2 linked regions of the Homo sapiens genome follow. The protein of the gene in region 1 interacts with the protein of each later gene in a biochemical or structural test. Each region holds a gene or a part of one and is shown on either strand. Other genes may lie near its edges.

Region 1 (3,039 bases):
CGCCTCCCTTAGCCCCTACTCTCATATGATTCCCAAACTCTGTGAGCTTGGGAGCCTAGGCTCAGGAGCCTGGAGATACAAATTCCAGCTCTCTGAGAGTGGTTGGTCAAGATACTCACTTCTCTTTCTCTTTTTTTTTTTTTTTTTTTTGAGACAGAGTCTCACTATGTCACCCAGGCTGGAGTGCAGTGGCGTGATCTTGGCTCACTGCAATCTCCGCCTCCTGGGCTCAAGTGATTCTCCTGCCTCAGCTTCCTAGGTAGCTGAGACTACAGGTGCCTACCACCATACCCGGCTAATTTTTGTATTTTTAGTAGAGAGGGGGTTTCACTATGTTGGCCAGGCTGGTCTTGAACTCCTGACCTTGTGATCCGCCTGCCTCGGCCTCCCAAAGAGCTGGGATTACAGGTGTGAGCCACTGCACCCGGCATCTCTCTTTTTTTTTAATTAAAAAGTTTTGTGGGGAGATGGGTTTGCCCTAGCTGGTCTCAAACACTTGGCCTCAAGCAATCCTCCTGCCTCAGCTTCCCAAAGTGCTGGGGTGACAGACGCGAGCCACCGCACGCAGCCAGTACTCACTTCTCTAAGCCTCAGTTTCATCATCTATAAAATGGGTGACTAAGAGTTCATCCCTCTCAGAGTTGCTCTGAGGATCATTAGAAGATGATGTGGGTAAAAAGCCCCCAGCATACAAGAGGGCCCCAGTGGATGGAAACCCTGTGAGACCTGCTTGCTCTCCATAGGTGGGTGCGTCATCTCATTACCTGCATCTCCAAGTACCAGTCTCCAGGCCGGGCCCCCCCACCCCGAGAGGAAGGTAGGTGTCTCGCAGGGTTGAGTGGGAGGAACCCTCACCTGAGCCTGTGCCTTTCCTGGGATGGGGGCTAGGAACTCAAATGCCCTAGGCCACTCCCTGGCCTCCCAAAAACCCACTGCTGCTCCTCACCCCAGACTGCTACAGTGAGACCGAAGCAGAGGACCCGGACGATGAGGCTGGGTCCCACTCAGCCTCGGTGAGTGGGGGGCTGCCGGGGGTAGGAGGTGGGGATAAACAACAGGGCGTGGAGCTCAGACAGAAACCCTCTGTGCTTTCCACCCTGCCTGCAGCCCAGCCCTGCTCAAGCTGGGAGTCCCCTCCATGGAGACACATCACCTGCAGCCACCCCCACACAGCGCAGCCCACGGACCTCCTTTGGCTCTCTGACAGGTGCTGGGCTGGAGTTGGGAGCTGGGCTGGGGGCTGGGGTGGGCACATCCTCATCCTGCTCTTCCCTCCCACAGACAGCAGTGAAGAGGCACTGGAAGGAATGGTACGGGGGCTGAGGCAGGGTGGCGTGTCCCTCCTAGGCCAGCCACAGCCCCTGACCCAGGAACAGTGGCGGAGCTCTTTCATGCGGCGCAACCGAGACCCTCAGCTCAATGAGCGAGTGCACCGTGTGCGGGCGCTACAGAGCACACTCAAGGTCAGCTGGGGGGCTCTGGGCACAGCAAGGGACTAGGCTCTGGGCTTCAGGCTTTGGTTTGCGGCTGTCACCTCCACCCTGGGCACCAGACTCCAGACTCCAGACTCAGCTCCGGACCCTGGGCTTAGCAGCTGACAGCGGGCTCAGCTGTGGACTGGGCCAGGCTCTGGGTTCCGAGTGGGGATTTGAGTCTCACCTAGGCTCCTCGTGCCACGCTGGCCAGGTGCTGGCTTCCAGGCACCGGACCTCCGGAGTGAAGTCTGGCCTCGGGCTCTGCCCACTTCCCTGGGTGATCATGGTCCCTTAGCCCCTCCTCTCCACACAGGCAAAGCTGCAGGAGCTGCAGGTCCTAGAAGAAGTGCTGGGTGACCCTGAGCTGACAGGAGAGAAGTTCCGCCAGTGGAAGGAGCAGAACCGGGAGCTGTACTCAGAGGGCCTGGGGGCCTGGGGAGTGGCACAGGCTGAAGGCAGCTCCCACATCTTGACCTCTGACTCCACAGAACAGTCCCCCCACTCCCTGCCCTCTGACCCTGAAGAGCACTCCCATCTCTGCCCCCTGACCTCAGAGAGCAGCCTCCGACCTCCTGACCTCTGACCCTGGCCAGCACTCTAGCTCCTGACCTTTGACCCGAGGGCCACCTCAACCCCAGCTTCTGACGTGTCCAGGACAGAGCATCCCTGGATTCTGTTCAGGGTGGGAAGTAGTACTGCTAGTCATGGTCTCACCCCGAGCTGACCCCTCTGCCTGGGCTTTGTGCCACCCTCTCCCTTGCCAAAGAAGAAACTCTCCCCCCAAATCCTCCAACCTCTGGGGCCACAGCCCTGCCCCTCCAGTTCCTTGGCAGTTCTCCCCCAAACCAGGTCTGTACAGGTGTTCTTTATTTTACATGAGGGCTACTTTCCAACCAAATAAAGTCAATTTTTCTAAGAATGAGTCTACATGTAACTTTACTTCCATATTCGAATTGGAAATCTGCCCCCCTGTGGGGACTGGGGTGAGTGCTCTTGGCCAGAGGGTGGGTGGCAGACCCTTCGTGCAGCCCGTTGGCCTGGGCTCTGTACCCGAGCTCCAAGCCTGCCAGGATGGTGGGGGATGACCCATGGCTAATGAGGGCTCCGACTCATGTCCACCTCTCCCCAGCTCTTTGAAGGCTAATGGTGATCTCCTACCCCATTCCCGGGGGGCACACAATGAGAAACTTCCACTTTGTAGATGGGGAAATGCACTTTGCACGGAAAGGTGGTGGGGACAGTCCTGGAGACTGGGCTGGTAGGACAGGGCAGCTGGTGGGGAAGGGTGCAGGTTGAGGTCTGCCCTGGGAAGGCCCTGGGGAAAACACTTCTCTCCTTCACTCCTCATTCCAGCCTCACCTCCACCTCCTGGATCCAAGGCAGGGACATGTCCCTGTGACTCCATTCAGGCTGCACGGGAAATCTGACCTGCTCCCATCAGCCTCTGACTTCCAACCCCAGCCCAGCATCCCCACAGCATCCCCAGACTTCCTCTGTGGGATGCGGAGGAGGGCCAATGGGAGGAGCTTCTCTCCAGGTTGGAATTCCTCAGTAGAATGCAGAC
Region 2 (3,745 bases), on another chromosome or scaffold:
AAGAGGGTTTGGGTCTCTGCTGTACAGGACCTTGGCAGCCTGCAAGGAGATGACTCACATGGAAGTCCCCACACAAGTGCACCCAGTGTGAACTTTGGAAGCATCGGCCCATGCTCAGGCCCACAGGTAAGATGGCCAGGAGCCCCTAACCTTGAGGAAACTTGAACCACAGAGCTGCTGGCGAAGGGGGTGGGTGAAGGTCTCATGTAGCCTGTGTGATTCAGGCAGAAGTGAGAAGGACGGGTGGGAACCCACCAAGTGGACGACAAGCTGAAGGGCTCCCAGGGAGCAGACACTTCAAGGGCCCCAAAAGGCCAGGAGAAAGAAAAAAAAAAGCCGGGTATGGTGGCTCATCCCTGTAATCCAGCACTTTTGGGAGGTTGAGGCAGATGAATTGCTTGAGCCCAGAAGTTTGAGACCAGCCTGGGCCTGGGCAATGTGGCGAAACCCTGTCTCTACAAAATATACAAAAATTAGCCGGGTGTGGTGGTGCAAGCCTGTAGTCCCAGCTATTCAGGAGGCTGAGGTGGGAGGATCACATGAGCCCAGGAGGTGGAGGCTGCAGTGAGCTGTGATCGTACCACTGCACTCCGGCCTGGGGAACAGAGTGAGGCCCTGTCTCAAAAGGCCAGGAGTGGAAGACAGGCCCTAGCCAGGAGGTTTCGCGTGGCTGGCAGGGGCCTTATGAGAAGGCTGTTGCTGGGAGGGGCCTGCTGCAGATGGCTGCGGCAGACCACGGAGCTTAGCCTTCAGGATTTAGATCTGGGGATGACAGGCTCCTGTGTGCTTGTTGCGGAGCCGGGAGCACAGGCACCAGAATGATCCCAGGGCTCAGCTCCAAGGCTCCGCTGGGCCTGTGGTGGGGCAGTGAACGTGGACAAGACCTGGGCTTCAGAGGAACTTGATGACCAGGAGCCGTGGTTACCGCCTGTGCCCTGGCCTTCCTGCTCTTCAAAGGGTGTGTTCTGAGCTGAGGCGAGACCCACACGAAATCCGAGCGGGCTCCGGAGTCACCAGACACCTAGGGAAGTATGGAAGGCCCGGAAGGACACACACAGCCGGGTGAGCCCCGCAGGGAGCTGTGCAGTCTCAGGTCGTCCAGTCCTGGGGCTGCAGGCCAGTTCTCCAAGCAGGTGGTCCTGGAGGCAAGCTGGTTTTGAAAGTAGGTTCTGAAAATAGGTCAGTCCAGGAAACAAGCTCTGGAAGTAAAGAGATTCGGAAAGCAGGTTCGTTCTGGAAACAAGTTCTACAAACAGGTAGTTCTGAAAGCACGTGGGTTCCAGAGGCAGGTGCTAGAAGGATGTGGGTTCTGTACGGAGGTTCTGGAGGGAGGCGGGTTCTGGACGGAGGTTCTGGAAGGAGGCGGGTTCTGGAGGCCGGTTTTGGAAGCAGGACGACACCGACAGAGGCGCCTCGGACTGGGGCCAGGCCTGGAGCCTCCGCTCCGCGGGCAGAGAGAAGAAAGCAGGCATTGTCGGAGGACTCACACAAGCACTTGTCCCTAACAAAACCGTTTTTAAAAACCCCATTGTGAACATTTTTGGAACAAGCCTCTTAGAGGGTCCCGTTGCCGGGGTGACAGGACGAAACGGCGCGAGCGGGCAGACTCCTGGAGTCCCCGCAAAGGGAGCCGAGGAGCTAGGCGCGCCGAGTCCAGGTCCGCCCTGACTCTCAGCTTGGGACGTTCCGTATAGTTTTTTTCTCCGTTTCCCGAACTTCTCCCGCACGCTCAGCGGCCGCCGCGGCGCATGCGCAGTACAACCTGCCAGCCAGCCGCGGGCGTTCCGGCCGCGGTTGCCAGGGGTTACCGTCCCGCGGGCGGGCGGAGCTGGCCGTCCAGAGCCCGCCTTCCTGGAACTCTGGTTGGCTGATATAGCTGTCCGTCGAAGCGGCATTGCCGCCTATTGGGCAATGGCCAGCTTCGCACGCCAGACCCGTGCCCCGCCCAGCCGCGCCGCGGGCCGCCCCCACTCAGGAGGGACAGTCGGGGACCGGCGCGGGCACTCAGGAGCCCGCGGCCCAGGTGGTGCGGGCGGCCCTAGCCCGGCTGCGGAGCGCTGCGCGAGCGGCGGGCTGGCTGACCCCGAGGGACCCCCAGCGCAGCGGGTGCGGCGATGATCCTGGAGGAGAGGCCGGACGGCGCGGGCGCCGGCGAGGAGAGCCCGCGGCTGCAGGTGCGCAGAACTGGCGCGGCGGCGGGAGGAGGGGCCCGGAATCCCGGCCTTTTCCTGCCCCCCCTCGAGGCGCGTTCCGGGCGCCCCCCTCCTACGTCTCATTCGGCCCGGACGCAGGCAGGGAAACTGAGGCCAGAGCCTGCGTCCCTCCTCCTCTGAGCTCGGTGGAGGTGCTTCCAGGCCACTCATGTGAGCCGGGAAATGCGGACAGCCAAAGTCTGGATCATCCTCACCGCTGAAGCGGGTTGGGGGGACGCCCTCCTCGTGTCCCCCTTCTGGGCGGATGTGGGGCTGGGCTCTGTGAGCGCCCTCCCCACACCCGCCATCGTGTTCCTTTCCGGCACCTGTACAGCCTCCTTCCCTAGTTCGGTCCTCCCTCTGCATCCGCTCAGGAACTGCATGCCCATTGGGTGCACTGGTAGCAGCGGGCAGCGAAGCCTCCTGGGTATGGGAAACCGAGAGAGGTCTTCCCGGCTGGCCTCTTCTCACTTCCCAAACCTCCTTCCCTTCTGAAGTCCCTAACCCGGGGTGCTGACTGGGCAAGTGGGAGGGGTGGGCAGGGCTGTGGAGACCTGCTGAGTCTGTGCCTGGGAAGGAGGGGACGTCTGTGGGCCTTGCTCTGCAGCCCAGAGCCTGCTTGTTCCCTGCGGACCAGCTCGAGGCTGCCCCAGTCCTCCTGCCAGGCCCTGGGCGCCCACGCCCGCCACGGGCTTTCAGCCGCGGGCTGCTCCTGCTCCTCGCCCCGGGTGAGCCTTTGATAGCGCGCGGCCCTCCTCCCCTCTGGGACGTCAGACTGTGTTGTCCCTGGGCTGGTTCTACTCGGCTTTGGTGTTTGGGGTTAGGTCTCCTAGAGGAGGAGGCGGTGCTATCAGCCAGGGTTTGGCTTCAGGTCACTGGGCTGGTGATGCTGACCGTAGCCCTCAAGGACGCCCTTCTTGCCCACCCCGAGGCGTGCCAGAGGCTGCAGCACCTCCTGGGCACTGGAGGGAAAGAGGCAGCCTGTGCCTGCCCCCTATGAACTTGCTCTGTCAGGGCGGCCATGCCTGCAGGTGGCCTGGGACGGCACATGTTGTTTTGGGTGGAATGTTTGGGAGGCTGTACAAACAAGATGTCCCAGAGGGCTCCGGAGGTGACGCTTTTCAGGCTGGGGGCTGTGCCTGGGCTCCCTGTCCTGGCCCTCCCTGGGCTGCCACCTTGGAAAGTTGGGGAGAAGCTGTTTCCAGGCTGCCGTGTCTCTCACAGCGTCCAGAAATGACCCCACAGTCAGGGTACTGGGGAGGGGCCCGTGGGAGGTGGCAGTGGGGCGGAGGCAGGCCCTGTGTCACACGCGCACCACTCAGGCTGTCCTGCCATCTGGAAAGTCTTCCCCGATGCCTGCTGCCGGGCTAGAGTGAGGCCTGTTCCACCCCCATCAGGCTGGCCCCCAAACTGGCCCTAAAGCTCAGAGTTCAGTGGGTCAGGGGTCGGTCGTTCATCCACTTAGAGGCCACACCTGGGCCTGAGGCCCTGTGGACAGGTCTGGGTGACTTGTATTTGCCCCAGGCGTGATGAGAGCAGGCTTCCAGCAAGCG

Evidence for each region.
Region 2: the proteins of CNKSR1 (region 1) and RHPN1 form a complex in vitro, tested with the Homo sapiens proteins (one study listed by BioGRID).

Annotation. Positions count from the first base shown.
Region 1 is NC_000001.11:26,187,491-26,190,529, forward strand, and holds the end of CNKSR1 (connector enhancer of kinase suppressor of ras 1), read left to right. Parts: intron 1-743; coding exon 744-817; intron 818-951; coding exon 952-1,013; intron 1,014-1,107; coding exon 1,108-1,207; intron 1,208-1,281; coding exon 1,282-1,463; intron 1,464-1,788; coding exon 1,789-2,058; 3' UTR 2,059-2,394; downstream 2,395-3,039. UniProt on the Homo sapiens protein: May function as an adapter protein or regulator of Ras signaling pathways.
Region 2 is NC_000008.11:143,366,874-143,370,618, forward strand, and holds the start of RHPN1 (rhophilin-1), read left to right. Parts: upstream 1-2,002; 5' UTR 2,003-2,114; coding exon 2,115-2,174; intron 2,175-2,206; exon of another isoform or gene 2,207-2,920; intron 2,921-2,951; exon of another isoform or gene 2,952-3,745. UniProt on the Homo sapiens protein: Has no enzymatic activity. May serve as a target for Rho, and interact with some cytoskeletal component upon Rho binding or relay a Rho signal to other molecules.